Regions from separate parts of the Homo sapiens genome. Here region 1 is linked to region 2. Evidence: fine-mapped QTL for protein levels in blood plasma. A gene starts in region 2. The other region holds a variant in brackets. All regions are shown on one strand. Distances are between the middles of the regions. Region 1 overlaps GASK1A (golgi associated kinase 1A). Region 2 holds the start of GASK1A (golgi associated kinase 1A).

The links. A credible set is the group of variants that fine-mapping cannot tell apart. PIP is the chance, under the fine-mapping model, that this variant and not a neighbour inherited with it causes the effect. The UK Biobank Pharma Proteomics Project read protein levels with antibody pairs (Olink). The fine-mapping took linkage between variants from a reference panel, not from the people measured, so its PIPs are less certain.
Region 1: its variant is the best candidate, but not a certain one, in a credible set for the plasma level of the GASK1A protein (UK Biobank, PIP 0.65). The variant lies in the coding sequence of GASK1A. If it changes the protein, the assay may bind it differently, which can mimic a change of level.

What each region holds. Positions count from the first base shown.
Region 1 is chr3:43,045,547-43,061,529 of GRCh38, forward strand. GASK1A (golgi associated kinase 1A) reads left to right here. Exons shown (of 5, transcript NM_001129908.3): 3 at 7,975-8,097; 4 at 9,886-9,989; 5 at 10,630-12,169. The coding sequence ends at 10,840. Among named protein-coding and RNA genes, the nearest start is that of POMGNT2-AS1, 32 kb to the right of the region's middle. The variant G/A (reference allele first, on the strand shown) is at 8,074.
Region 2 is chr3:42,969,002-42,984,984 of GRCh38, forward strand. It overlaps GASK1A (golgi associated kinase 1A), which reads left to right and starts at 10,310. Exons shown (of 5, transcript NM_001129908.3): 1 at 10,310-10,644. The coding sequence starts at 10,642. RefSeq lists enhancers at 14,833-15,333, 15,334-15,834.

The DNA.
Region 1 (15,983 bases), 77 kb after region 2:
AATATTTACTCTCTGGTCCTTTATAGAGAAGTTTTCTGATCTCTGCACTAAACCACTGTGTTGGTAGCCTCTGGTGGCTCTTGCTAAGGATGGGGTGCATATGAAAGCATGGAGTAGGCTCATATATGGGTGGTGATATGGTTTGACTGTGTCCCCACCCAAAATCTCATCTTGAATTGTAATCCCCATAATCCCTACGTGTCAAGGAAGAGACCAGGTGGAGGTAATTGAATCATGGGGGTTGGTTTCCTCAATGCTATTCTCGTGATAGTGAGTTCTCATGAGATCTGATGGTTTTATAAGTGCCTGGTAGTTCCTCCTGCATTCATTCTCCTTCCTGCCACCTTGTGAAGAAGGTTCCTTGCTTTCCCTTCATCTTCTGCCATAATTGTAGATTTCCTGAGGCCTCCTCAGCCATGCAGAACAATGAGTCAATTAAATCTCTTTCCTTATGAATTCCTCAGTCTTGGGCAGCTGTTTATAGCAGTATGAAAATGGACTAATACAGTAAATTGGTACCACAAAGAGTGGGGTGCTGCTATAAAGGTACCTAAAAATGTGGAAGTGACTTTGGAACTGGGAAACAGGCAGATGTTGGAACAGGCAGAGTTTGGAGGGCTCAGAAGAAGACAGGGAGATGTGGGAAAGTTTGGAACTTCCTAGAAACTTGTTGAATCGCTTTGAACAAAATGTTGATAGTGATATGGACAATGAAGTCCAGGCTGAAGTGGACTCAGATGGAGATGAGAACTTGTTGGGAACTGGAATAAAGGTGATTATTGCTATGCTTTAGCAAAGAAACTGGCGGCATTTTGCCCCTGCCCTAGAGATCTGTGGAACTTTGAACTTGAGAGAGATGATTTAAGGTATCTGGCAGAAGAAATTTCTAAGCAGCAAAGCATTCAAGATGTGACCTAGATACTCTTAGAAACATTCAGTTTTATGCATTCACAGAGATGGTTTGGAATTGGAACTTATAATTAAGATGGAATCAGAGCATAAAAGTTTGGAAAATTTGCATCCTGATGATGTGGTAGAAATGAAAAACCCATTTTCTGGAGGGAAATTCAAGCTGGCTGCAGAAATTTGCTTAAGTAATGAGGAGCCAAATGTCAATGCCAAGACAATGGAGAAAATGTTTCCAGGGCATGTCAGAGGTCTTCATGGCAACCATCTCATCACAGGTCCAAAGGCCTGGGAGGAGGAAATGGTTGTGTGGGCAGGGCCCAGGATCTTGCTGCTTTGTGCAGTCTTAGGACTTGGTGCCCTCCATCCCAGCTGCACCAAAAAGGGGCCAAAGTACAGCTCAAGCCATTGCTTCAGAGGGTACAAGCCCCAAACCTTCTAGGCCTCCACGTGGTGTTGCACCTGTGGCTGCACAGAAGACAAGAATTGAGCTTTGGAAACCTTCACCTGTATTTCAGAGGATGTATGGAAACACCTGGATGTCCAGGCAGAAGTCTGCTGAAGGGGTGGAACCCTCATGGAGAACCTTTGCTAGGGCAATGTGGAAGGGAAATGTGGAGTCAGAGCCCCCACACAGAGTTCCCAGTGGGGCTGCCTGATGGAGCTGTGAGAAGAGGGCCATCATCCTCCAGACCCCAGAATGGTAGACACACTGACAGCTTGCACTGTGCACCTGGAAAAGCTGCAGACACTCAATGCTAGCCGGTGAGAGCAGTCAGGAGGGGGTCTCTATCCTGCAAAGCTACAGGGCCAGAGCTGCCCAAGACTGTGGGAGCCCATCTCTTGCATCAGCATGAGAATGGACTAATACAGGTGGGATGATACTAGCTTTAGTGATTTAAAATGAACTCTCTAACCCTGTCCTAGCCAACATTTTTATTAGTAGCCTGAATGAGGACATCTGGGCTGTAGGGGACCCAGCCATTCTCTCTGTAGTCGTTCCTCACAGAGCCCTGATTTGATTCACCTTCCACCTATTCCTGGATTCAGAGGCAATGGGTTCAAGGATCAGTGCATTAACGTCTTCCACTGATTGCTGTTGGTCCACTGATTGCTATTGGCCTCTTAATTTGGCTGAAGGGAAGACCTTCTATTCCACGGTTGTTGAGGGGAGAGGTTCCTTCTCTCTCTCCCCTTCTCTCATACTCTTCTTCTCTCTTTCCTGCTGGACATGAACAAGGAAACATATTCCCACAGCAACTACCTGCAGGCATCCTAAGACAACACTGGGATGCTGTTAACATTGTGGGTGGTAACGTGGAGGGCAGAAAGCAACCCAAGTCCTTATCATGATAATATGGAGCTGCTAAATCCACCCAACCTGCCCTTCCTCAAGACTTCCTTCTGTAGATAATCTCAATCTTCCTTATGGTTTAAGCCATTTGGAGTCAGGTTTTTCTGTTACTTGTGGCTGAAAACACTCCCATTGGTATAGTAGCTTACTGGTCTGGCGGCACATAACCTAAAATTGGCAGGGGAAGGAAAGGCAAATGAATGTGACAGCAAAACCATCCAAAAAAGATTCAATGGGTTGCAATGAAAGATTAAAGGAGGAAATGGAATAGTGTTAAATGCAAAGTCTACTGAGGGCCTGTGAGTCAGTGGTATAAAGGCAGGTTAATGAAGCCCTGGCTGAATGGACACATATGAGACAGAGACTTGCTAGTTTTAGACATGCACAATAGGTGTCAACAATATGATAAGATTGGTGAAGATGCTAATTCAGTCTTAGCATCTGGAATCAGGGAGGCGATGTTTCTGTGCTACTCCGTAACTTGATTCTCAGCTGTTGTGTCCAGTGCTAGGTACTAAAGTATGATAAGAATATTGACCAACAAGAGCCTGGACATGTGACAGCAATAGAGACCATGAGGGGTTTCTATCTAGGTTTGAGTTCCCCAAAAAGGGACTCTGAGACTAGAATTTGAATAGAGCAATTTATCTGGGAGGTGGTCCTAGGAAACCTGGTGAGCAAATGGGGAAGTGAAGCAGGGAAGGAAGAAAAGCTAATGAAGGGTACAGTAAAGAGCAGGCTGCCACCATGGGCAAGTGAGGCTGAACCCAGATGAGGGCCCTTGACAGACTGTGTAGAACACTGCTGTGGGGTATCATTCCCCTGGGAGGTGAGGGGCTATGATACTTGTACACTAACTGCCATAAGTCATTGTTTGAAGCTTGCTCCTGGAGGCATTTATTTTCCAGCACATTTGCCTGCTGCATGGGTGGGTCAAGCCTGTTATGGGCAAGAGTACCTCTACATATGGGGACTGTATGGTTGGGACCTTCTGTAGGTGAGCCCTAGGTTCATGGATGGAGAGCATCAAAAGCATCTACCATAGTTTCAGAACCCAAGTGTGTTTAACCTGGATGAAGGAAAATTCAGGGGGCGCATCACTTGGAGGGAGTTTGATTCCAAGCAACAGAGACTAACTCTGGTTAACATAAGCAAGAAAAGAATCTACATTTGGTAAGACATTAAGGGCTTCAAGGAATGGAAGAAAAAGGCCTGGGAAGCCTGAAGAGTCAGGGGAAGGATGGAGGGTATATGGTTAGGGGAGCTTGGACCCCATCCTCACTTCATGGCTGGGTGTGCAGGGTACTTGGATTGTTGATGCCACCAGACTGTATCTAGCAGGGAAGATTGATTCTCTTACAGGAAAACCAGGAACTCTAATGAGTGGTGTGCATGCCAATGTGTTTAGAGGGAAATTTCTAATGTCTGCAACTTACTTTGAAATGCATAAAAAATAAGAGATAAGATGACTTAATGGATAGATATAGAGATGTATCAATAGATATGTCATAAAGTAAGCATAATAAAATATTCATGGTAGAATCTTAGTAATGGGTATGTGGATATTCACCATAAAATTATTTCAAATTTGCTGTTTGAAATTTTTTATAATAGGGTATTAGAGGAAAGAAGAAAAATTGAATATTGGTTACCCAAAGTTCAGGAGGCCAAAGCAGTAAAGAGGGTACTCCTCAGGAAGTCTTGCTAATTGGCTTATCGCATGAACAGGGCTGTGGTTCTTTGCCAAGCTGGACCAATCTTCTGGGCTTTGTGCATTGGCCTCTGGGCTAAACTTGTTTTTTTTACTAGAATCAGTGGATATATTTAATCCATTTGGTCTACTGCCCTCAGCCTATCTAGACCTGAGATGTGCTTTCTCCATGTTTAACTGTATAAAACAGAAAATAATGTTTGGGGACAGTACTTGGGACTATTGAATGCTGTCTCATTTCTTAACATCTGGTTTTGTGAGATTAGTTGGTGACTAGAACTGTAGTTATTTTCTTGGTAGTTGCACTGGGATTACCATTAACATCTTGATTTATAACAATCTAGGTCAGATTACCAGCAATTTAATTTCAATAGTGTAAAAAGACTTTCTTTCTATATAAATCTCTCCCCCCCCACTTTTATGCTATTCTTGTCACAAATTACATCTTTATACATTTTCTGCCCATCAGTATAGATTATAATTATTGCTTTCAGCAGTTTTTTTTTTTAAATCAGAGGGGAAAAAAAGAAGTCCAGAACAAAAAAAAATACATTTATACTGTCTTTTATGTTTATCTATGTAGTTACCTTGAACAGAGCTTTTTAGTTCTTGACATTAATTCAAGTTACTACTTAGTGTCCTTTCATTCAACCTGAAGTCCTCCTTTTAGTATTTCTTGTAGAAGAAGCCTGCTGACAATAAACTCTGTTTTTGTTGTTCTGTTAATGTCTTCATTTCTCCTTAATTTTTGAAGGATAGTTTTGCTGTATATAAAATTCTTGGTTGACAGGCTCTCTTTTTTTTAATTTAATTTCAACACTTTGAATGTTATTCCTCTGCCTTTTGGCCTCCATGGTTTTTGATAAATTTGATATCAAATTACTCTTTGAAAGAATCCTTTTTATGTGATGAGTGACTTCTGTCTTGCTGCTTTTAAGATTCTCTCTCTGGCTTTTGACAGTTTTATTCTAGGTGTAGGTCTCTTTCAGTTTATATTAATGGAGTTCACTGGACCTCTTGGACGTGTAGATCAATGCTTTTCACCAAATTTGGGGAGGTTTTGGACATTAATTCTTCTAATATTATTTTCACATCATCCTCCCTTCCTTTTAAAACTCCTCTTATATATATGTTGGTACACTTGATGGTGTTACATGGGTCTCTGAGGCACTGTTTATTTTTCTTCATTTTTTTCTTCTTATTCCTCATACTTGATAATCTCAGTGGACCTATCTTCAGGTTTTCTGATTCGTTCTTCTGCCTGCTCATAACTGCTGTTCGATCCTCTCAGTGAATTTTTAAAAGTTGTTGTACTTTTCAACTCCATAATTTATATTTGGTTTCTCTTTATAATTTCTATCTCATTATTCATGTAGTCTTTATGGTGAGGTATCGTTCTCATACTTTACTTCTCTAGGCCTGATTTCCTTTAGTTCTTTGAACATATGTAAAATAGCTAATTTAAATTTTTTTATCTAATGTCTGGGCTTCCTCAGGAAAAATTTTGATTGATTGACTTTTTTCATGCATATTGGCCATACTTTGTTTCTTTGACTGTCTCATATTTTTTTGTTGAAAACTGAGTATTTAAATAATATAAGGTGGCCACTTTGAAAATCAGATTCTTCTTTTCCCCAGGATTTTTGTCATTGCTGTTTGTTGTAGTTGTTTTTGTTTGTAGTGGTTTTCTTTATTTGCTTGTTTTATTTTTATGAACAAATTCTATAGTCATCTGTATTCTTTATTGTATATGGCCACTGAAATTTCTGCTCAGTTAGTTCAGTGATCAGCTGATGATTGAGCAGGAGATTTTCATGAATTTCCGGAGCCAGTAAGTCTCCTAGTCTTTGCCAAAGGACTCTGTGTGTGTGTTGAGGCATCTCCAACACGTATGTATGCAATTGACAAATCTGCTTTTGCCTTCATTTGTGCTTGTATAGTCTCAAGGTCAACCAGAGGTGAGAGCTTAGGGTATTTTCAGTTTTTTCCTGAACATGTGCACAGTCCTACACATGTGCATGTGGCTTTCTAGATTTCCAGGAACATATTGGAGCTTTTCACAGCCCCTTGGACATTTCATTTCTTATCTTTTCCTTTTAAAGCTTTTTGGTTAATCTATTGTTTGTCCCAATTGTTATCCATTGTCTCAGACAGCCATGGTGTTGAAACATTTGCCAGTAAATGTTCTCAACAAATGTCCTCTACCCTTCCAGGAGAAGGCTTTTAGTACCGGGCAACCAAAAAACCATGCCTTTTAGTGGAGTTTACCAGGGAATCACCAGACACGTCAGATAATGACAATTTTCTTGCAATGAGGTCTGCTCTGCTCCCTTCATACTGAGTTTCCAGGTTCCCAGGCTGATGTCTTCCTCTCCAGTGTTGTTCCCAGGCTTTCTAATTCAGACTAGCCCTTCTGCAAAGATGGGATCAGAGTGTCCAATCTAGGTCTTCCCCACACCAGGCTCTTTTAGGAACTTAGTACATTTTGCAGCCTGAGAGTTAGATACCTACCAGTCATTGTCCTGACTGGTAGATCCCAGAGATCCTCAAGGCCTCCCCACTGACTTTCACCACCATCTGGGAGATTTAAGAAAACGACTAAAACCCCTAGTCCCATAACCTGTGGGGTCTGGAGCCCTTCCTAGGATTTGGACAAATCCCAAGGAGTAGATGGACTCTTTCTGTTTCATGTGCCGTGAGCACTACCTTGACTTGCCCCACACCAAACCTGAACTCAAAGCTCAGCATCCACCAAACATTTCACAAGGGCGGCAGCTTCACTGAAGGACAGAGAACTTGTGGAAGGGCACATCTCAGCCCCAGCCTCCTGCTGCTCCCTGCTTCCCTTCACCTTCTCTATTCCTCTGTCCTCCTCCTTCCACAGCAAGAAACTAACTTTTCTTCTTGTCCCATGCAATGCAAGTCCTCCCTCACCCAGACCTCCAGGGATTTCACCTTCTACCCTAGGCATTCATTGAGGTATTGCATCAAACCAAGTTTCCTTCATAAAAGGAAAATAGAATGAGTTTTCCCCGGCTTGCCCATCCTGTGTGTGATGGTGATTCCCTACTGCTCAGCCGCCCTCGCTTCATCTTTCATCCACTTCCTAGCATCTCCCAAACCTTCTCCAAACCAACTCCTCACTTCGACTATTCTCCCTTTCCTGTCTTTCTCCCCACAGCAAGCCCTCCCCTAACCATCCTCAGAGGACTCTACCACTTCTTGCTTGTATGCCTCTCCATCCTCAACCTCTTTGTCCTAGATACTTACAGCAGATACTATCCTCATGTAGGTCAGGGCTGGGGTAGACCCACGATTCTTCCTATTGCTGACTTTCAGGCTGCACCTTTCCTTCTGAAGAAAGCATCCCGGAAGCAAGTGAGTGGGAAGTGTGATTCTAGGAATCCTCTGATCCACTCTAAAATGCTGTGGGTGTCATCTGTATGTGTCTATTCAGGGGAAGGGTGGCAAAGCTCCTCAGAACTGACTGCACACCACATTGAGGATGTCCTCCTCTTTCCCTGGCTTGATTCAGGCCTGCTGCAGGGTGAAAGAGCTGTCCAGTTGGAGCTGTTGAGATGATCATTGAAGGACTTGCACCTCTAAAGAAAGGAGGAATCCCTGATGTAGCATTTGCTGCTTAAAGAAAAAATAGAGTGATGTGGAATCTCCCTAGGTAGACAGGCAGACGGTCAGCATTCAGAGCCTCAGAGGTGCCAGGCTAGAGCTAAAGAGCAACAGTGTAGGTTAAGCTGTGGGCACTGGGTGAAAATCCACACTGGCCTGAGGCATGAGCAAACAGCTCCTGGTGCGCAGAGTGATCTGGCCAGAGGAGGAAAGCGGAAGCCCCATTTAGTAATGACCAGCACAGAGAACCAGTGAGGGTCACCCCTGCTGTGGCCCCAGGGTCATGTAGGAAACAGCAGGTCAGGTGGCCTCCATGCTATGCCTGGTGGAGGCAGGCCCCCTGCCGCACCCCACCGAAGGCTGGGTGTCTCCACAGGTCCACGACCGCTTGGATCGCTACTGCTGTGGCTTCGAGCCTGAGCCCTCAGACCCCTGTGTGGAAGAGAGGCTCCGAGAGAAATGCCAGAACCCAGCC[G/A]AGCTGCGGCTGGTCCACATCCTGGTACGTCTCCTCCACACCATCCCCTTGTCACCCCAGACCCAGGTCTTTCTGTGTCCTTCAGAAGATGCTGTTAACAAGTTTCAGAGATCAGTTGATGCTGGGGTTTCCCAGTCTTGTTCTTTTCAGCAGCAGAACCAGTTGTTTGAATATTTCCAGGAGTCCGCAATATATAAAGCTGACAAAATGGAGCTTTAAGAATGTGCCTGAGGAGGGGTGTGGGGTGGGGGCTGGAGCCTTGTTTTCACTGTCTCCACTGCCCCTAAGAGACTCCAGGGAACAACTAGGGCTCCTGGAAGTAGAGTTTGAGAATGGTGTGTCTAGTCAACATCCTCGTTGTGCCAGTAAATGAGGAATTGCAGTCTGGAGGGAAAGGAATCTTCAAGGCCATACGCTAGCAGCATTAGGGCATGAACCCAAGACTGCAGTGGCTCACAGGCTGGTGCTGCTCCTGTCAAAACTAGAGTCCAGGGTGGGAAGCAATGTGCCGAGGCCATTGGAGAGGGCAGAATAGCCACTTCTTCTGCATAAGAAGCAAGGTGCTTCCCCCGGGGAAGGGCTTCTCTATCTTCTCCTGCAGTGAGGCATAGTGTCCTCACAGCCTCCCTTTGCTCTTAGAGGGTAGCTGTCAGCATGGTGTCCAGGGATGGGCTTCAGGGAGGCCGCATCACCCGAAGCCCAGGATTGCTTAGTGGTGGTGCTGGGAATTCTCCTCCCCTACCCCCAGAGCCATCTCTCCTTTTCCCTGGTCAAAGGTAAATATCCATGGGAGAGACAAAGTTTTAATAGCCATTGTTTACCCCTGGTGAGCAGGCATTTCACAGATCTTTTAGGACAGCAGTTTCCAGAGGGAAGAGTCACCTGGCTTTGAGCAAAAGGTGATCCTGACATGTGGAGTGGGGTGAGAAAGGAGAAGAGGCAGAGAGAAGGGAAGCTGGAGTCCTGGAAACAGAAGTTCATAGCTTAAGCCTAGGCCACTGGAGAGGATTGTGGGAAATGCCCATGGACTTTTGGAGGCTATTTGGGAAAGGAGTGCATGCATGGGAGTGGGGACCAGAAGAGATGGCCTCCCATTCGCAACCACACCATATTCTTTAAGGTACTAAAGAATTTTCTGGTGCTGATTTTGGTTTTGAAAAGGTTTAGGAGCTGCTAAACTCTTCTGTAGAATCAGATTATGGTCAGTGCTTTTTGAGGATAAAGGATATGTCTGTGATCTCAGTGATGCTCAGGGGGATGCCCAGGTGCACAGGCACAGGTGGCACAAAGGGGTGACTGAGTGTGTGTACACATGTGAGCAGCACATGTGCGATGCCCCTCACAGCCGGTGGCCCCGAGGAGCAGGCTACCTTGGCAACTGCTGATTCCCACCCTTGCTCCTCACCCCTTCAGCCACCAAAATAGGATCAGTCCTTTGGCCTTGCGATTTAGCAGATGGTGCTATGGCTTAGCCCCATGGGTCCGGGTTTGAAACAGCCCAGCTACTTACTAGCTGTGTGATTTTGTGCAAATTGCTTAACTTAAAGAAGGTGCCACCATTTCTGTAAAATAGGGCTAACACTAGTGCCTGCTTCCTAAGGTTACTGGGAGAATTAATTGACAGGATGTCTGGAAGCACTTAGCACAGTGCCCAGCATAGAGTAAGCACTCAGCGGTGAGGACTGTTTGTTAGGATGGACTGTGGGACTGACAGCTCAGGGCTGTCAGCCCCTTAATCTTGACCAAGTCCATAGGTGCCAGCCGTAGCTGCACCCTTACCCACCTCTGTCTCTGTCCACCCTCTTCCCTGAGGTCCGGAGCAGCGATCCATCTCACCTGGTCTACATCGATAACGCTGGCAACCTTCAGCACCCTGAGGACAAGCTGAACTTTCGGCTGCTGGAGGGCATAGATGGGTGAGGGTCAAAAGGGTTGGGTGGAAGTTCATGGGACTGAGACCTGATGGCCTTGCTGCAAACCTTGGGACCTTCAACTGTGGCCCTGAGAAGCCCACAGTCCATCAGACAGAAGTTATTGGATCAGAACTTTAGGCGGTGGTGGGGAGCCCTGGGAAAGCTGAGAGGGGATACAGTTGGCAGGGCCTACCCCAATATCCAGAGGGCCTCGTGCCTGCAGAATACTAGCTGTATTGCTGGGGTGTGGGAAGGCTAGTCCTTCCCTTGTTCTGGGTGAGAGAGCTAGGCCAGAGAGTCTACCCCTCCCAGCTCACTCTTGGCAGGCAGCTCTGCCTTCCCAGGATTCTTTCTGGCCCTGCATTTGCCAAGTGGAGCCTGGGATAGCGGAATTTATTCACCTGGCTTCTCTGTAGGATGGGACCCATCTGAAAGGTCTGTCCCCTGCCTTCACAGCAAAGCCAGGCAAAGGGTCCTCTGTTAGTGAGATAGCAGGTGCAGGTCTGGGGAGTTTGCCAGGTGACTTTACCAGAGTTCCTCAGCTATGCAAGCTCTGGCCATCTGGCATCACCTGTTACTGAAATTCTCTGAGATTACTGTTGCTTTTTCTTTCTGTTACGGGGCTCTGGGGCCTTTGCTCCAGGTTTCCTGAGTCTGCCGTGAAGGTTCTCGCATCAGGGTGTCTACAGAACATGCTGCTGAAGTCGCTGCAGATGGACCCAGTGTTCTGGGAAAGCCAAGGCGGAGCCCAGGGGCTGAAGCAGGTCCTCCAGACCCTGGAGCAGCGAGGACAGGTGCTGCTGGGACACATCCAAAAGCACAACCTCACACTCTTCAGGGACGAGGACCCATAAGCCGCACACAGCCCTGAGTCAATGAGCATCCATCCTGATGGCCACATTTTCTTGGGCTCACTCATCTTGAGGACAAATGGGAAAAGCCAGAAGCCAGAGGGGCACAAGGATGTCACGGGATATTTCACCTGCCTGGGATGGTGGAGGTAGTATGGGGTTTTCAATCTCAAAGCGTCCCTTTCTGCCTTCTCGGCTCTGGCTATTTATTCCCTTGCACCAACAAATACATTCGAAAATGTTCTGTGAGCTGCTCAAGAAACTGTAAAAATGTGTGATGCACGTGCATATGCAGAGTGGGAGAACTTTGTGTGTGTGTAGAGGTGTGTAGGTGTGGGTGGCATGTGTGCCCGCCTGCATGCAATACCTGAGACCAACCTAATAAAGGTACAATCTTCATAGAACTGCACTTGCAGCCTGGAGTTGCTCTGGCTGAAAGTAGACTCAGGCTTAAGAAATGAAACATAATGCGTTTGTCTTTATAGACTTTAAATTTTCAATTATTACTCAGTTATGTTTTTGGTTTAAAAAATTATAAAAGTCTAAAAGTAATACATGCTCAGTAAAAACAAGTCCATAAAAAATAGAAGCATATGACAAAAAGCATAAGTCCCACAAACTCCCTAGCGGTGTGTATGTGTGTGTGTGTTATTCATGGTCACACTACATGCAAATTAAAAAATGAAAGTGTGGTCATGCTTTGTCAACTCACTATATTTTTACTTTATTAACTATATTCTGTATCAGCCATCTGAATTGACCCAATCTTTATTGGTGACTGCATGAAATTCCAAGGCAGGGATGTGTCATATTTTCTTTAGCTGGTCCCATAATCATGAACATTTAAGTAGCTCCAATTTTTCATCAATTACAGACATTGCCGCCATGAACATGATTGCATGGCGTGCAAGTATTTCTGCGAGGTAGATTTCCGTACGGGATTTCTGGGGCAAAGGGTATGGGCATTCAGTATTCTGAGAGAAACTGCCAAATTGCTCTCTGAAATGGTGGTGTCAATTTACATTTCTCCCAAGAGGGTAGGAGACTGATTATTTTTCTACACCTTCACCAACACTTGGCATTCTCAGACTTTTGGGTTTTTTTTGGCCTATTTAGGAGGAAAACCGATTTTAAAAGCTGCATTTCCTTAATCATGAATGAAGTCATCTTTCCACTTATTTGCCAGACATTTGTATTTTCTTTTCTGCATTGTCTTTTTGTTTTAAGATGTTTGCCCTTTGCTTGTTAATTTGTTGGAAATCTTTGACTCTAATAAGTGTGATCAATCTTTTCTCTGCTGACTTGGTATAAATGTTTTCTTCCAGCCTCTAATTTGTCTCTTAACTTTGTTTATAGTCTTTTGCCAAGTGTAAAATGTTAATTTCCACGTAGTCAAATTTGTTTATCCTTCCCTTTAAGTCTTTTGAGTTTCATGCCTTCTTAGAAAGGCTGTCACCACTTCAAGATTATTGAAATAATCTGTGTTTTATTCTAGTATTATACAGTATTTCTTATATATTATATAGTATTTCTTATATATTTTCATATATTTCATATATATTCCCTCTAAATTAATATATAAAACCTATATTTTATATGGATTTAAGCAGAGAATGGTGTGAGTTAGGGATCTAACAAGTTTCATTTCCCTTCAAATGGATAGTTAGTTGCTGTAACATTATTTCATAGTCCATTCTTTCTTTACTGCTGTGAAAGTATACTTTTATCAGATATTAGGTTCCCACATGCACAGAGGTCCATTTGTGAACTCTGTTCTGATATTATTTTTCAGTTCCTGCATTAGTATGACAGTGTTTTAATTAAAGTTACTTTATTCTTTTTTGCTGTCTGGTAGGCTGAGTTCCCATATTTTTATTCTACTTTAGTTTTTTCCTTTGCTATTTTTGTGCATTTGTCTTTCATGTGATAATGTCAGTCTATGAAGCATGCCACCCCTCTCCTTTTATCCTCAAAATCCCATTGGTGTTTTGATTGTGATTATATAGAATTTATAATTAGTGGGAATCTGACTTATTTGAATATTGAGTGCTCTCATTCAGGTTTATCAATCCACCTATTCTTTGATAATCTCTAGCAACATTTTTTTGTTTATTGAGACAGGGTCTCACTCTGTCACCCAGGCTGGAGTACAGTGGCAAGATCTCAGCTCACTGCAGCCTCAACCTCCTGGGCTCAAGTGATCCTCTCACCTCAGCCTCCTGAGTAGCTGGGACGGCAAGTGCACACCACCGCGACCAGCTAATTTTTGTATTGTTTTGTAGAGATGGGATTTTGCCATATTGCCCAGGCTGGTCTTGAATTCTTGAGCTCAAAGCATCTGCCCATCCCAGCCTCCAAAGTGCTGGGATTACAGGCATGAGCCACCGAACCCGGCCTCTAGTAACATTTTAATGTTTTCTTCAGCAAATAAGCTCATTTTAAAGATAGTTTGCAATTTCTACTCCTATTGAGAATGAGTTCTTTTTCTTGATTAGATTTTTCTAGATAGAATTTTAGGTGCATATCTTATAGTTTTTAAGTAGAAAATAATATTTTCAAATAATGATAATTTTACATTTATATTTCATAAGTGTGTGTGTGTTCTCCTCTCATTTATTTCTATTGTCTTATTACTTAGGTTGGGAGCTTTCTGGAGGAAAATTGAGTAATAATAGCAACAATAGTAGGCATCCACATCTTATTCTGGACTTTAATGGGAACACCTCTGTGGTTTCTATTATGTTTTGTCAGGTTTAAAGAAATCATTTCTGATAAATATCTTTCATTAAGTTAAGGAAGTTTCTTTTTATTCTTAGCTTACTAAAACCATTTTTCAAAAATCAAGAATGGGGATTGAATTTTATTAAATGCTCTTTTCAATATCTATTGAGCATATAGTTTTTCTCCTTTATTTTCTAATGCTGAATAATCTTTACATTCTCAGAAAAAACCTATTAGGCTGAGGTATGTTAGTATTTTGGGAACTGCAGAATTTAACTTGCCAATATTTTACTTAGAATCTTTGCATATACATTCATAAGGTTTTCCTTTTTGGGCACTCCATGGCTGTCTTACTATTAAATTTAAACATACCTCATAAAATAAATTCAGAATTTTATTTTATCTTTTTAATGCTTTGTAAGAGTTTAAATAAGAACCATTTATTCCTCAAAAGTTTTATAGCACTCTCCCATAAAACCATCTGGGCCCTGTGCCTTTTGCTAGATCTTTTACAACCTAATGTAGGAGATAGGTAACAGGGGCCTGCAATAAACCAACATGCCTGGCATATTCAGTGGGCGTGGAAATGTAGAAGTGTCCTGGGCAAGACTCAGGCCCTTGGAAAAGGGAGTTTGGATTTAGAGATTTCAGGCATTTCTCTTAAGGTCACCAATGTTTATTTGACTTTGACTTTTTGTCTTTTCTCCTCTCTTCTTCCTGTGTTCTCAGTTCTTTCCAAGGATACCCTTATCAAGTGATGCTGTTCCTCTAGGCCTCAGCCAGTTTCTGTTTAACAGTCTCTGCTTTGCCTTCTGCCTGGTAGACCTACACTCAGCCAGAGGTGGGAGTGAGACACTTGTCATCCTAGAAAATGGCAAGAAGAAAGGAATACAAAGAAACATTTCATTGCAAAACATAATGTGGAGCTCTCACATTAGGATGAGGCTCATTCTACTTTGTGACTTAACCAGCCGCTTTGAAATAAAACAGATCTAATCCTGTCTCACCACCGAGAGACTGACATGCAAGTGGACAATGCCCAAACTACATATAATAATAAAACTCTATCCACCACCTCTGTAGCAACCAGCTCAGAGAACCAACCACAATGTCTGTAGCATCTGCTCAGTAGGGTGAAGACCTAGTCAGTGACTGCCAGCTTCCTTATTTTTGTCCCTACTTCCAACTCAGGATCAATCAGAGAAAGCCAAATATGCTCCCCTAACCAATCAGTTAGGATGCCCCACCTCTAGTTTGCCCATCTCCAGTGTCTCTCATGCCAGCAGCCTCCAATCAGGGTGCACCTGGAGCCTTCCCTTTCTTTCTCACTATAAAGCTTTCCCAGTCCCTGCCTGTCTTGGAGTCCCTGCCAAATGCAAGTGATGGTGCTGACCCCCTTGCCGTAGCAAGCCTCTGTCTGTTCTCCCTTGGGTGGTCTTTGTTGATTTCCATACTGCCTGGCTGTAAGAATTAAACAAAGTTAACTAGTAATCCAGGTGAAGGCACTGGCCCGGCAGCTGGAAGGGTAGGCAAACTGAGCCACATTCTGAGAGCAGGTTTCCTTTACACTGAAATGGGGCAGAGGTGGCCGCCTAAGAAAGGAGGGGAAATCTGCCTGGCAGGGTTGCCTGGTTTTGTGGTGTGTGTGTGTGTGTGTGTGTGTGTGTGTGTGTGTGTGTGTATGTAGAGTTTCTCTTTGAAAAGACCAAGCCAGACTCTTCCTGTCAGTGAGCAAGGCCCCAGCTTGCACCAAGCCCTTTTGTGTGCTGATGTGAACAGGTCTGCTCAGCATAGACAGTGGGGGCACATGGGCAGATACGGAGTGGCCCCTCTCAGCCTGCCCAGTGCACAGCAGCCACTTGTAGCACTGTGGCATAGGACCCAGCTCTCCCTCCTTAGCTTATCTGGGAAGGACACCATTTCCAGGCACTCCCATCAACACTGACCTCTTCCTACCTGGGGCGGGGAGAAGGGCAGACTCCCTAGGATAGGTGGTTTACATGGATCAAAGCATTTAACCTCACAGCAACAACATGGGGAGGTGTGATTGTTACTCTCTCCATTTTACAGATGAGGCACAGAGGGGTTAAATAACGTACCTAAGGTCACCCAGCTTGTAGGTAGAAGGGTGGGACTTCAAACCCATCAGGAACTGTGCTAGCAAGTCTCGCTTCCAAGACCACCGCTTTTCCCACCACACTCCCCAGCCCAGCCACCCTGACAGTTCCTCTTCTGCTAATCCCTTTGGATTCAGAAGGATTAGCAGGAGAAGAACTTTCTGTTAAAGATGTGGCAGGGCTGGTTCTCTAGTCCAGGGAGCCGCAAACTGCAACTCCTGGCCAAGCACATTCACATGCATTTGGCTCTTGGCTTGTTAAAGTCTGCCTAATCTATTAGCTGTGTCTTTCCTGCAAACTGGAAACTT
Region 2 (15,983 bases):
TGGTGAGGAGATAATAAATCTTTATATTCACGGAAATAATACTTACCTAGTTGCCTGCACTTGGAACACAAGATAAATAGGTATGAAAATGAGATACTAATAACTCTTTGGGCTTGGCAAGCGAATTAGTCTTTACATGTGATATATCTTTTCTGGTTATGCTGTGACTGTTTTGCAAGTGAGAACTAGCGTTAGAATTCCAGAAAAAATACAATTATTTATACTCTTCAGTTATAAATAAGTAATAAGCTTAAATAATATGTTTTATCTGAATTCTTTTTATTGCTTGAAAAGGTGGAGAGAGAAATTTTGTATTTTCTTTGATAAGAAGCTTATAAATGGTAAATGGCTTGCCCACAGTACAGCCTTCTGAAACAGTAATTTTAGACATAAGATTTTGAAACACAATGTCAGAAATGTATTTAAAACATTTAAATAATAATTTAATTATTTTAACATTAATTACACATGTATATAGTGGATTGGGGTGAAAAAATTTCATGCTAGCTGTGAGATAATGGTCATGTGCCTTGGGATCTGAATTTTCTCTTGTTTGTCATCAGGAAAAAAGTTTAAGAGCAACTGCATAAGGGATGCAATTTTTTTTTTTTTTTTGACGGAGTCTTTTACGCTGTCTCTTGGGCTGGAGTGCAATGGTGCAATCTCGGCTCATTACAACTTCTGCTCCACCTCCCAGGTTCAAGTGATTCTCCTGCCTCAGCCTCCCGAGTAGCTGGGATTACAGGCGCCCGCCACCAAGCTCGGCTAATTTTTGTATTTTTAGTAGAGACAGGGTTTCACCATATTGGTCAGGCTGGTCTTGAACTCCTGACATTGTGATCCGCCCACCTTCGCAACTCTTAATCAAACAAGGTCCCAATCTTCCAGGAACAAAAAAGTGCCCAGGAGGCAGTAAAGAATAGTGGGATTAGCAGGCCCTAATTCATCCCCCTATAATTTGCTGTCTTTTCCTTAGAGTTCTCCAGTTTGCTCCTCCTTGCCAGTGTGTCTGATCTTTGGTTGACTCAGATATAATTCCTCTCTAGCCAAGGGAAGGACAAAAATCAATTTTCCTCTTTCCCCAAGTCCATAAGTGATGGAGTCTGTATTTTTAGCCTCAGTTTATCCATCTATAAAAGGGAGAATATAATAAAACGGAAAATGTAATAGCTACTTCATGGGGCTGTTATAAATATTTAAAAAAATTAAATGTACATGAAAATACCTTGCACTATACTTGGTACATTGTGGATGCTCAGTAAATGTGGTACATTGTGGATGCTCAGTAAATGTATCAGTTGCTAGTTGAATCCATCTGTTCTGAAAGTGGATATGACTGATATATCCAGTGGGCTTCCTTTAATCTAGGGTGACCAACTGTCCTGGTTTGCTCAGTACTGTTCCAGTTTAGCATTGAAAGTTCCACGTCCCAGGAACCCCTGCTTGGGACATGAAAAGTTCCAGTTTTTGGTGCTGGTTGGGGAAGACTGGGGGAAAAGTACATAAACCACATTGCTGCCCAAAAAATAGGGGCTGAAAGCAATACTAGTTTTAGTGTCAAATGGATAAGGTATAGATTATCTGCCTTTTGTAGTTGCTCTTGCTTATTTTTCCCTTGACCACTGATGTTGACAACCATGATTTGTGGTTCACAATAATGGAATATTCATTATAGCTTCACTCCAAGTGATGTGATTTAAGGGTCCATCTTAAGTGTGTTGTAATTGTGAGTGTTAACAGTCTGTTTTTTATTTTGACTGTGGATCAGCTGTTGAACTTTGTATTGAGATAGTGCTGGATTAATTTTTAACATTGTGAATATTATGACTATGTTTTCTAAGAGTTCAGATATTGAAAATAAGAACTATTATTATACTATTGCCAGCATGACCCAGATATCACTGCAAAGAAAAGACTAAATAACTTATTTTAATGATAGATGGAAAGACACATCCAGCCAGATCAGGGAGGTGAATAACGGAAACAAAGTATACTGCACCCTATTATGAAAAGAATTTGGGATTGGGCATGGTGGAGAAGGAGATACAAAAATGCAGATGAGACTGAATCTCACAAGTCTAGGATAAGAAATTCAAATACTTCTTAATCAATCAAAAGTATCTTATCCCTTCTCTTGCCCAAAAGACATCAATGCTCAGTGGAACACAGAGGCCACAGAATTAGCTTGGGCTTACCACATGAATGAACAAACATGCATTATTTTATTGTTCCTTTGATTGCTCCATGAAACTGAGTAAGGTTTTATTTCCTGATTATAGAAGTTGCAACTAAAAAGTCCTGTGGGCAAAAGAGGGGGAAACTGCTGTGTTAGCCCCCTGGCGTGTAGAGCTGATTCTGTCAGATCTTACCACTGATCATACTTTCTACCGTACATTAAGTGATGTGTCAAATCATAGCAACAAAAAATATTGTCCCTAGCTGTTAGGTACTTTGATTTGAAAAAGGAGGTTTCAAATCATTTTCTTGATTTCTATTAAGAGCTTAATAAAACTACAGAAAACACAAAAGATAATTGGTATTGTGTTCAAATACAAACTGGACTTTACTCAGCAATCTGCCTATTCAGCAGACAGTGCAAATATAAATTTTGGCAAATTCCATTCAGTCTATAAATTTCTTACCAAAAAAAGAAAAAAAATGAAAACACCTTACCTACTAAATAACCTGCATATCTTATATACAATACTGCTAAAAAGGCATATAATTTGCTTACCTGACATTGAGCCTTTTATAATGAAAATTTTGGGCCTCTTAAAAATTCCTCAGAACCTGCAGAAGCACTTAATAAGATTTTTGACTCTATAAAAGTAGAAAACACCTCTTTAGACGTGGCTGTCATTGTTGTCAGCCATAGAAAAGATATTAAAATGTTGGCCTGCCATAAAATCATATTTTCCAAGTGTGGGACAAAAGGATGTCTGTTTTAGTAGGCTTGGGCTGCCTTAACAAAATGCCATAGACTGGATGGCTTAAAAAGAGAAGACTGGAAAGCAAAAGAGAAGCGGATAAGCTATAAGCCTGCCTTTCTTCATGGTCCAGGACATGTAGCCCTCTTGTGCCCAAGGATCACCAGACACCTGCAAGTTAGCTCACTGCAACCTTGGTGTTAATCAGTACTGCACAAAGCCCTCTTCAGCATAAACACTATTCTATAAAATCTCCAGCAAGCCCTTTTTCTTTGCAGTCATCTCTTCTCATGTTGATTTGCTCATTGCTTTCTTGGAATGTATTTTTATACTTTGTCTAACAAATCTGCCTTTCTTTATTTACAACTGTCTTGGTGAATTCTTTTCCCCCTCCATGCCACGGGCCCAGCTAGTCATTGCCCACCCATGACACAAGAGAAATTTATTTTCTCATGGTTTTGGAGACTGGAAGTCCAAAATCAAGGTGACAGCAGGGTTAGTGTCTTGGTGAGGGCTCCCCGGGGTTGCAGTCCATAACAATGTTCTTCTTCAATTTGGAAATATATTGAGGTTGAGAATGGAGAAAAGATTATAGTTAACACATTTCTATGCTGTTTCTCCAAAACTGTTTGATGCTCTTTGAAGAGGCCAACAAGGAGCCTGACAAAGGATGAACTGACTACACCTGAGTCGTTCGATGGTTATGCATAGGTTGTTTCAAAAACTTATGCAGCAAAAAATGACTTGAGTTTTAGCAGATGATTTCAGAATTTCAAAAACTGTCACCAGGAAAGGGCAGCCAAGATAAACAGGATTTTTTTTCAATTTCTTTATTAAAGACTGTAACTTATTTAGAATACAACTTTAATTTCAAAAGATCAAATTACCTTTGTGCTTGTTCTTCACATGATGCATCATCAGAATGCAAAGCCAAGCAATACTGCACAAGCACACACAATGCTTCTGTTTGCTCACGTCTTATTGGTCAGAGTTAGTCCATGGCCAATCCCAACAACAGTGCAGTAAAGATATATGTTCTGCTCACAGCAGGGGGAAGGGGAGTAAAAAGGTTTGGCTGTGTCCCCACCCAAATCTCATCTTCAATTCCCACATGTTGTGGGAGGGACCCTGTGGAAGATAATTGAATCATGAAGGCAGGTCGTTCCCATGCTGTCCTCCTGATAGTGAATAGTCTCACGAGATCTGATGGTTTTATCAGGGGGTTCCACTTTTGCATCCTTCTCATTTTCTCCTGCCGACATCATGTAAGAAGTGCCTTTCGCCTCCCACCATAATTCTGAGGCCTTCCCAGGCATGTGGAACTGTAAGTCCAATTAAACCTCTTTTTCTTCCCAGTCTTGGGTATGTCTTTATCAACAGCGTGAAAATGGACTAATACATTAAATTGGTACCAGTAGTGTGGGGTGCTGCTGAAAAGATACCTGAAAATGTGGAAGTGGCTTTGGACCTGGGTAACAGGAAGAGGTTGGAACAGTTTAGAGGGCTCAGAAGAAGATAGGAAAATGTGGGAAAGTTTGGAACTTCCTAGAGATTTGTTGAATGGCTTTGCCCAAAATGCTGATAGAGATATGAACAATAAGGTCCAGGCTGAGGTGGTCTCAGATGGAGATGAGGAACTTCTTGGGAACTGGAGCAAAGGTAACTTTTGTTATGTTTTAGCAAAGAGACTGGCAGCATTTTGCCCCTGCCCTAGAGATATGTGGAACTTTGAACTTGAGAGAGATGATTTAGGGTATCTGGCAGAAGAAATTTCTAAGCAGCAAAGCATTCAAGAGGTGACTTGGGTGCTATTAAAGGCAGTTTCATAAGGGATGCAGAGCATAAAAGTTTGGAAAATTTGCAGCCTGATAATGGGAGAGAAAAGAAAATCCCATTTTCTGAGGAAAAGTCAAGCCAGCTGCAGAAATTTGCACAAGCAATGAGGAGCTGAATGTTAATCCCCAAGACAATGAAGAAAATGTCACCAGGGCATGTCAGAGGTCTTCACAGCAACCCCTCCCATCACAGGCCCAGAGGCTTAGGAGGAAAAAGTGGTTTTGTGGGCTGGGCTCAGGGTTCCCATACTGTGTGCAGCCTAGGGACTCGGTGCACTGCATCCCAGCTGTTCCAGCCATGGCTGAAAGGGTCCAATATAGAGCTTGGGCTGTGGCATCAGTGGGTGCAAGCCCCAAGCCTTGGCAGCTTCTACGTGGTGTTGAGCCTGCAAGTACACAGAAGTCACAAATTGGTGTTCAGGAACCTCCTCCTAGATTTCAGAGGATGTATGGAAATGCCTGGATGTCCAGGCAGAAGTTTGCTGCAGGAGTGGGGCCCTCTTTGAGAATCTCTGCCAGGGCAGTGTGGAAGGGAAATGTGGGGTGTGAACCCCCACCCAGAACCCCTACTAGGGCACTGCCTAATGGAGCTGTGAGAAGAGGGCCACAATCCTCCAGATCCCAGAATGGTAGATTCACCAATAGCTTGCATTGTGAACCTGGAAAAGCTGCAGACCACCCAATGCCAGCCTGTGAAAGTGGCCAGGAGGTGGGCTATACCCTGCAAAGCCACAGGGATGGAGCTGCCCAAGGCCACGGGAGCCCACCTCTTGCGTCAACATGACCTGGATGTGAGACATGGAGTCAAGGAGATAATTTTGGAACTTTAAGATTTGACTTCCTTGCTGGATTTCAGATTTACATGGGGCCTGTAGCCCCTTTGTTTTGGCCAATTTCTCCCATTTGGAATGGCTGTATTTACCCAATTCCTGTACCCCCATTGTATCTAGGAAATAACTAACTTGCTTTTGATTTTACAGGCTCATAGGCAGAAGGGACTTGTTTTGTCTCAGATGAGACATTGGACTGTGGACTTTTGAGTTAATGCTGAAATGAGTTAACACTTTGGGGGGACTGTTGAAAAGGCATGATTGGTTTTGAAATGTAAGGACATGACATTTGGGAGGGGCCAGGGCAGAATAATATGGTTTGGCTGTGTCCCCACCCAAATCTCATCTTGAATTCCCACATGTTGTGGGAGGGACCCTATGGGAGGTAATTGAATCATGGGAACAGATATTTCCCATGCTGTTTTCATGATAGTGAATAAGTCTCATGAGATCTGATGGCTTTGTAAGGCGGAGTTTCCCTGCACAAGCTCTCTCTCTCTTTGCCTGCTGCCATCCATGTAAGACGTGACTTGCTCTTCCTTGCCTTCTGCCACGATTGTGAGGCCATGTGGAATTCTAGGTCCATTAAACCTCTTTCTTTGGTAAATTGCCCAGTCTTGGGTATGTCTTTATCAACAGCATGAAAACAGACTAATATAGGGAGTAAATATTTGCTGAACAATAATGTAAGTTACCTCAGCCCCCTTCAAATGCTTCTGTGGGCCCCACCAATGACTTCCATTTGCTTCTTATTGGCTGTTCGTTTTTGCAAGGGAGGTTGTGAAATATATAATTTTTTGGCCAAGTATACTGCTTCCCCTTGAAATATACGAGTTAAGTGAATGAAAAAAAAGAATGTAAACTGGATGCTAACATTCTCTGCTGCAAAAGAAGTTTTTTTCTCATTCGTCATTCTTGGATTCAATAAATGTTTTTGAAAGTTTACCATGAGAAAAGTCCTGACTTGGATGTTGTAACTTATATGAGCACATTACATGGTTGCAGGAATCCAGGGAGTTAGGCTGGGCTGGGATGATGGTTCTTATCTGTCAGATGAGGAACCTGAACCAGTGGAGAGGAAGTGGCTTTGCTGAGGACCCATGCTTTGTGAGTGGTAGATTCAGTTTTGAACCTCAGTCTTCTCTGTCTCATTCCTTTATTCAGAAGCATTTATCAAGTAGCTACTTGGTACCAGGAAGATGGAGACAGAAGGCCCAGAATCGTCTTTTCTTCTAGGAAGTGAGAGTCACAGGAGATAATATTTGCAACAGAGAAACTTCAGGGGACATGCTGTGCTGGACCTTCAGGATGGGGAGGACTGGTGCAGGGAGGTATGTCAGGTTGGAAATAGGAATGTGTCAAGAAAAGGCTTTGAGATGGAGGAAACTGCCCTGAAGGAGGTTTATGAGTGTGTAAAAGGCTTGAAGAAGTAATCGGAGGTCAAACCTTGAAGGAGTCTGAAAGCTATGCTGCTGAGGAATTTGCACTTAATCCTGAGAGTTATGTGGAACAGGTCAGTGGCAGGCCCATGTTTACGTTTTGGCAGTAATGTGCAGGATGGATTGGAAAGAGCAAAAGTAGAGCCTGAGATGCTAGTTGAGTTTCTGAGAGTACTGTAAGTGATGACAAAAGTTTGAGCCAAAGAACTGGCCGTGAGGAGGAGAAAGATTCCAGAATCATTTAGAAAGGCCATTTGGATATGGGAGCCAAGGAAGAGGAATTGCGTCGTTCAGCAGTTCTCAGCCCTGGCTATGCTTAAAAAATATAAAGACACTCAAGCCTTGGAAATTTTGATTCAGTAAGTCTGGAATGGAGCTAGACATGGAATCTTATTAGAGAGTGGGCCTGTTGGGCCGCTGCCTGGGGTACCAGTTTATAAGAAACCCTAAAACGTCCTTAGAGCAAGTTGGAAATCTGCTAACTGGTGAAAGATAGACTCACTCCTAATGAACCTGGAGCACCCTGTCATGAAAATAATAAAATATTCCTCTCTAGCACCAACCTGTCCCAGTGGAGTGAGTTGAGTATTTCCTACTTGCAAGGTCTGCAGTGTAACCAGAGGCTCTGCCAACAACCTGGGAGCAGCCAACCACCAGTCAACAAAAATTTGGAAAGTAACAAAACATGAAGTGTTGTTTCCTAGAAGGGAGGGATTTACTGGTTATCTAAATTTAAAACCCTTTAATATAGCTTCCAAGAAGTTGCGGCCAGGCGCGGTGGCTCACGCCTGTAATCCCAGCACTTTGGGAGGCCGAGGCAGGTGGATCATGAGGTCAGGAGATCGAGACCATCCTGGCTAACAAGGTGAAACCCCGTCTCTACTAAAAATACAAAAAATTAGCCGGGCGCGGTGGCGGGCGCCTGTAGTCCCAGCTACTCGGGAGGCTGAGGCAGGAGAATGGCGTGAACCCGGGAAGCGGAGCTTGCAGTGAGCCGAGATTGCGCCACTGCAGTCCGCAGTCCGGCCTGGGCGACAGAGCGAGACTCCGTCTCAAAAAAAAAAAAAAAAAAAAAAAAGAATTACAAGGTGGAACTGAAGAGGAATGGAGTGTGCAATCTTAAATAGAGTGGTCAGAGAAGGCTTCACTAAAGAGGTGACACTTGGGCAAAGACCTGAAGGAGATGAGGGAGCAAACCATGGGGATATCTGGGGCATTCTAGGGAGAGGGATAACAAGTGCAAAGGTCCTGAGGTGGGATCTTGCCTGTAATATGCAAGGGACAATAAGAAGGTGAGTGTGTCCTGGAGCACAGTGAGAGAGAGTGTGCAGAGATAATGTTAGAGAACCAATGAGGGCCAAAGTGTGAAAGGACTTGTAGGCCCCTGTAAGATGTGGCATGTTACACTGCAGGAGATTTGAAGCCTCTGGTAGGTTTTGAGCAGAGAAATGACAAAAATCTGATTTATGACTCTTTTCAAGTAATTCTTCTTAAAAGTAATTTTATTCATGTTATTAGGATGGACCAGGATATGCTATAACAACAAACAATTCTTTACAGCTTAGCCATGTTCTTGTGTGACATTTTATTTGGCTGGGCTAGATCCTGCAGCAGCTTTTCCCAAGTGTGTTCCATGAGTCATTGGAGCTGCTTCTTTTGAAAAACAGTTCTGCTTCCAGTAATCCTGGAAATACTGGGCACTCTCTTCCTGTCTAAGTTAGTGATTTGAGACCATCATTAAAAATACATAAAATTGGAATAGAATAGAAAATGTCAGAGTGCATCACATGAAGTAATGTTTTATAAAACAATCTTTTAGTTACATTTATACATATATGTTTAATATATATCTTGTGTGGGGTCACAGTCAGAAAATGAGACTCAAAAGATCACAGCGTCTCCCTAAACATCTAAATAAAACCCTGAATGGTTTGTACTGTCCTCCACCCTCTTCCCTCATTTCCCAACCAGGGCTCAAACTCTCTGTCCTTTCAGTAGTCCATATGCACAGACAAGCTGCAGTTTGCAGTGCTACATCCTGCCTCCTGTTCCTGCCATATCAAGTCTTCCTCTTTGTTTCATGTTCTGGCAAATAGACTTGGATTTGCTAAACTGTTTACTGGCGATCTGGTCTCAGGAAAGTTACTTCACCTCCCTAATCCTGACTTTCCTAATTTGCAAAAGTTTTCCTTTTAGGATCGTTTGTGGTTATTAAATGAAATAATGTACAGAAAGCATCTGGAATGTTAAGGACCGAATACTTTCCCTTCATCTGTTCCTCCTGCCCATACACACATACACAATTTAAGGGGACTCTCTGGATCTTTGCTTCCCTTTAGAAGCACTGCCATCAGTGATAACCTCAGATCATTCTGGGGCAGGAGACTGCTGGGAAGATGCCTGTCTTCATCTAGCTAATGATGCTTCCTGTTAGTTTCAGTACTGGAGGCTAATTTTTCAGCCTGGCCCCCAAATTCTCTCAGAGCACCCTACTGCTGACTCTGCCTCGCCTCCATCCATTGTCTACAGGCTCTTAATAATCCTGGGGTCCAAACATTGGGCCACTGGGGGACACAAGTCATAAAGACGTCTGGGGACTGGTCGATGGTCATCCAGCTGTTAATAGTGGGGCTAGCCCTGATTTTGGGACTACAGAACCCCTAAGCCCAGGACATTCCCCAACGGGGAACGGATAGACTCTCAGGTCTTGCTCTGACTGTGCCTTTGTTGGCAGTAGGTGACTCAGGGGACACAAAGGCACTGTCTGTGCATCCAAAGCAGAGAGGTATCAGCCACTTACTTCAGTGACTTTAACAGTGATTAGTTCTCAAGGACAAAAACTCTTCATTGTTAATTAGCTTAGTGGTCAACGGATTTTCCTTCCAAATCCTCTTGGGGACTGAACCCAAACAAGGCGAAGAAGTGACAGTAAAAAAAGACTTGTCCTTCTGACAAGCGACAGTAAAGAAAAAGACTTGTCCTGCTTGGCAGGAGAGGGTGGCAGTTTGGGCAACACTCAGCCATATTGCTGAGTTGCAGCGAACTCACCAAGCACCCTCACACCTTAGAGGCGTCCCTCACCGTCCAGCCTTGGTGCATCACCCGTCAGGCGGGCAGTCAGGGCGTAGACCTTTCCTTCCTAGCACCTGGGCCCCTACTCCAGAAGACCAGAAGACTGCGGCTGGCCGAGCCCCCGGCAGGGCTTTTATTGTGAAGGGAGCTTCCCCCTCCCGCGCTTTCAGGGGAATGGGGAAGCTGGGCCGGGACGCGCGGCAGGGACTTTGCAAACTCTGCAAAAGTCCCGAGTAGACCGCAGAGGCTCGCGGCCGCGGGTAGGCTCCCTCAGATCCCCGTAGATCTCAGTAGATCCGGCGTGTATTCCCCACCCGCGGAGTATCCCGGTGTGCAGCGATCTCCCGAGAGTTGGCGCAGGGCCACTTGGCTGCAGAGAACGTGTGCACCTTCAGTCCGGGAAACCCGCCCCAGCCGAGTAGCCGCGCATCCTGGGAAGCCTGGCGAGCCACGGCGCCGGGGGCGGCCAAGGGGAGGCGGGATGAGTCTGCGAGCCGGCTGAGCGCGCCGAGGAGCCGGCCGGGGCACCGCCGGGGACATGGTAGGACTCGCGGGAAGGAACGCGCGAGCGGAGGGTGGGGCGATCACCAGGACAGGTGGCTGCAGTCAACGCGCAGCGGCCCAGGGCGCGCGCAGCCTGCGCGGCCTCCCGAGGCCGGAGTTGTTCCCCGAAAGTTGCATGGGGCGGCGGCGGCTTTCATTTCTGCACCAGAGCTGGGGGCGATCGGCTTTCCTGCCGCTCTTAGTGGGGCGGACCGTAATAAGGGGGCTTTTATTACTAATCTGCACTCCTTGACCTAACCGTAACCCACTCGCAACTCTGCAATCTTCATGCAATCCACAAGGCAGGGAGAGGGGAGCGTTCCCTGGGGAACCCACGGCAGCCTCTGATGAGATGCTTTTGAAGTCATTTTAATACTCTCCAAAGTTCATGTGAATTTTATACTATCTTCTCTAATTTAGCTATGTATTGATATTAAAAATAATGTCCTAACGTTTATTAACATTTAATAACTAAATTAACATTGAGTTAAATTGGCTCTAGTAAGGTTCCAATCCGCCTTCCTCTACCTCCCCGACAGGAGGACTGTTGGGCAGATGTGGAAGCACTGGTGGGTCTGGGATGTCACGATGAAACCAGGATCTTGTGGACGTGGCCCTTCCATTGATCAACTTCACAGACACTAACAGGCAGAAAAGAAAAACCCATCGAGAATGTGGCCCAGGCGGCTTAGCTAAAGGACACATGCAACCCCAGGAAAGGGGCGTCCCTCAGGCCCGGCCGCTGGTTAGTTGCTCTGCTTCTCCCGCAGCAGAAAACCCCTGCAACCCCAACTGGGCTCCTGCAGTTCACTGGGCTCCCCTGGCTGCTTCCGTGCCTGCTCGCCTCTTCCCTTTCCTTCCAAGCTCACAGAAGGCAGATCGGAACCCACTGGAGATGCTTTGTGGGGAGTTTTGCTGGGCCTGGGGTTTAGAAGGCTGTCTAGAGACTGCGCTGTAGGATGGAGGGTCTCTGTGAGAACAGCTCCTTTGTGTGCAGGGGGGCCTGGCAGGTGGCTGGAACAGAGGTGGAGGGCTGGTCATAAGGAGCTGGGGGCTCAGGGAAGGGTACCTTTGAGGCTAGGGGTGTGTGTATGTTTCACCCCTCCTAACACCTATCCAGCTTCAGGTTTTTTCTCAAAGCTGCTAAGAGAAGGAAATAGTGGAATCTTAAGCTTCAAAAGGGGGAATGATTGGGGGTACAGGATGTGAAACGAAAAGTGTGGAGATATCCTATTACAAATTCCCTGTTTAGGAGCAAGAGTGTTACCAGAACTCAGGCCACAGCCATCCACTCCGAGGGGCATTAGCATGCTGGAGTCTCCTGGCTTTAAAGGCAAATGTAGCAGAGGCTCTGTGGTCTGCGGCTGAAGCAGAGTGCCTGGAGGAGAGATGGTACCTGCCTTCTGCTCAGGCTGCCTAGGGGAACATTGGTGTGTTTGCCCCACTGCCAGCGTAAGCTTCCCGTTCTGTGAGTCATTGCAGCTTCCCGGTTTCACGTCCCTGGCTCTGGGTTCTGGTATTGTGTTAGGAAGAGGACTTGTGTCAACATTTCACTGTCTCAGGGTTCACTTGCAGAGAGAGGGGCCTGATGGTCATCCTCTGGCAGTGAAATGGCCTTGGAGATCTGAAGGCTGTCCTTTGCTTCTCCATCTGAATGAAGGGTCTTGAGGTCCAGAGACCACAGGGCAGCCTGGCACTGGCTAGAAGCAGCATGGGAGGAGACAGGGGGCTAGGAATCCTTTGAGGACCTTAGTTTCCTCTTCTGTTAGATGAGAGATTGGACTAGATGTTATTCAAGGTGCCATTTAGCTCCAAAAATGGGTGATATGTGAATAATTTTGAGATTGGATCTCAATTCTAGTGTTGAGCTGTGCTTAGCATGAACAACTAAAAAGGTGTGGGGAAGAAGTGGTTCTCAGCCCTGACTCAGGCTGCCCCCATCCCCCAGCCCAAATCCAGATGAGACCCAGACCAAGGGATGTTTTCAGGCTCTGCAAGTGAGCCCAGTGTGCTGCCAGGGCTGAGAACCACAGGGCAAGAAGGCTGAGAGAACGGGAGAAAGCTGGGGCTCAAAGCTGCACTTCCCAAGATATCCCTATGTCCACAGAGTGGTCATTCCTTGAGATAGTCCTAAAATAGTTTTTGGGAAATGATAGATGCTATATCATTTCCCATTATATGATATCACATATATCACATGCTATATCTCTTTGAGGGTCCTTCCACAGAGTATTGTCTTTTAATTCATTACACTGAGATTTGAACTTGCCCAGCTTGTTTGAATACGGTATCCTTTATTCAGTATTTCCCTAATGCCATCCTATTATTGATCCAAGATACGTATGATGGGAAACTCTGGGTTAGAAGTATACAAATAAAAGTATAGAATCCTTAAATGTCCTTTTGAAAAAAAGAAAAAAGAAAAGAGCATTGAGCTGCAGTATCTGCGGGGGCATTTTTGATTATCCTGAGGAGTCAGGGGTCATTGCCATGGCTTGGTGTGTATTTTTCTAAAGCGAAGATTGGAACACTTGTCAGTTTCTTTCTTTGCAGTGGTGGTGGGAGGTTTGGTGTTTGCCAAGGACTCTGTACTTGATGAAAAATATTGATAGAATCAGATATATATGTGTTGGGTTAAAAATTAAAAAAGAAAAATATTGATAGAGAAAGTTGAAACTATTACTGCCAATTAAAAAATGTTTTCCTCCTGATTTTTGAGAAAAAATACACAACTTCTACAGGAACCATGATTATCATTTTGGCATATTTCCTATTCTCTTTGAGTATTATTTTAAAGAGCTGAGATTTCACCACACATGGAATTTTGCAGTCTGATTTGTTTTACTTCAGTTTATATCAAAGCACGTTTCCATGTCTACATCTCTAGAAAAATCTTTTATAACCATACATTTAATGCTCAGTACCGTGATTTTGATAATCATCTCCCCATTTTTGGACATTTAGGTCACTTCAGGATTGGGGCTGATTTCAGTGGCATGTGGCCAGCTTCTCATTATCCATGGAAATGAGGACCTGAGTGCCCAGCTAAGTGGAAATCAGAAAAATTCACAAGAATGAATTGCTCCGGCCTCTTTCTCTATCCAAGCTCTTACTGTAACTACCCTCCCAGGGCCCAGCGTGCTGTGGGAGGAGTTTCCTCTTGCCTGTCTTCACTCTGTGCTGTGGGCAGGTCATCAGGCAGGCAGCAGTGGGGGCAATGGAGTCCCAGGGGAGCCCACATGGGCCAGTCCTCCTTGGGAGAACCAAGAGCTAAAATCCCTGGAGGTTAAGACTCAGAGGACAAGTAGCTGAAGCTGGAAAAGGGATGTGGCCTCTTTAGGGTCACTTAGAGCCAGGCTAGGGCCCGGGTCTCCTAGTTCTTCCCCTCCACTCTCCATGTAGGTCCTGTCACAGTCACTACAGCCCCATCATAGAATTGAGGGATGTGGTGTGGCTTGGAGTGGCAGAGGAAAGGCCTGGGGTTTGCAGTCAGAATGGGGTTTGTGCTGGGCTAGGTCACCGTGTGGCTCTGGGTAAGCGCTGCCTTGCTCTGAACCTTAGCCCCTTATCTGTAAAATGAGTCATTGTGAGGAGCAAATGGAGTCATGGAGGTGAAAATACTTGGTGTCTCAAAGGTGCTGTAAGATTGGGGGCTTTACAAACGACCCACAAAAATAGGTTTGCTTTTTGTTAGGGTCTAAAATGGTAAGGAAGTCACAGGTGCCTTTCATTCAATACCAGTCAAGGGGATGCTTCTGGGACTCTTCTCTAAGTAAGGATCTAGTATAGATGAAATTTACCCTCAAGTAGTTTTCTTGCTTCTTTAAGTCTCTCTTCTCATCAGGCAGGAAAACCCAGCCTGCAGATGTTCGTCCAGTCTGTCTCCCTTGCAGAATGCTGCTGACTGGATGAGAATGTAGCTCCCCAAACAGCCGCAGGTCCTTGGAATCTACTGCTGGGGTCCCCTCATTGAGTCCCTCTGCACTGAATGAGTCGCAGAAGTCATCAGGCTTAGCTAAAGAAGAGGTTAAACTGGTATTGGAACCTTGAAATGCAGCCCATGGAGCCTGTGGGAAATTTGATCCCCTCTCTCTTCTGGGGTACAGCCCTTACTTGCAGCTCCTGCTGCATACCTGACCCAGGCTTTGTGCAGGGCTGGGCAGGGAGCAGAGTGTTTTAAAGAATCTACTGGCCCCAACCATACCAAACAGAGGTTGATCCAAAAAACAGGGATGTCGGGGGTGGTGGGAACAGGCCTCACAAAGAAATGAGTTCCTTAGTTGTTTCAGGGACTAGTGAGAGAAACATGCTTCAGCTTGGCCTCAAAGATGCCGACATCCTTCCAATAGGTCTGGGAGGCCCAATGTCTGCTCCCCACCTAAGGTACTAGTAGAGACACAGAGTGCATCAGTTTTCTTTGAGGCATGGTTGCTGTGAGTCACCTGGGGCTGTCTTTGCTTGGATCATCTTGTGATGTGACTGCTAAAGTGTTTCTGCCTAGGGAGTTTAGGGCGTGATCCCTCATTTTCTGGATGTGTCTGCACAGGCCTGTGTGTGAAGGACCACTTGGCCTGAGATTGAGGATGAGAGGGAGCCATGATTGTGGGAAAATCCCAGGCCGCCCTTCTTTATGTGGATTTCACTTCCTATCTCTCTCTCTCTCTCTTTCTCTCTCTCTCACACACACACACGCTGACTTTCACACATCACACATATACTCATACACACACATGTGCACGCACACACACACTCACGCATGCACACATACTCTTGGGAGTGGCCTGGGATCTGGTCCTATTCCCCAGAGTCCAGCCTGTGGCTCCAGAACTGCCAGCTGAGTGGAAGATGGAAGGTGCTTTATAATAGCATCTGGTGAATCCTGGGGTCAAGGAGGCTAAGAGTGGAAGGAAAGCAGGATGAGGGCTGATGTGAAGGGTGAGGAAACAGCAGGAGTATAACTGAAATGCAGATTCAGTCACTCACCACTTGTAGAGTCCAATTAACAAGAGCAAGGTCTAGTATAAAGAAAGTGACTTTATTCTAAAGCTTAGCTTAGGGGAAGAGGTACAGGCTCCTGCCTTTAAGGGTACCGCTTTGCTTTAGAGCAGAAAGCAGGGTCCTTTAAATGAATACTTGGCATGAATGGCATGCAGGGGAGTGAGCAAGCAGGTGGGGGTCTCCGTGACTTGCTTTGGTGCCTTATCTACCAGGGAGTTGAGCTAGCACCATCACAGGCAGAGCTAGGTTGTAAGGTCATCGTTGTCTTGAGATACTCTCCAGGTGGGAAAGAGTTTTGGAGTGGGCATACTTTAGGTTGTAAATTGACTGTTATCTCTC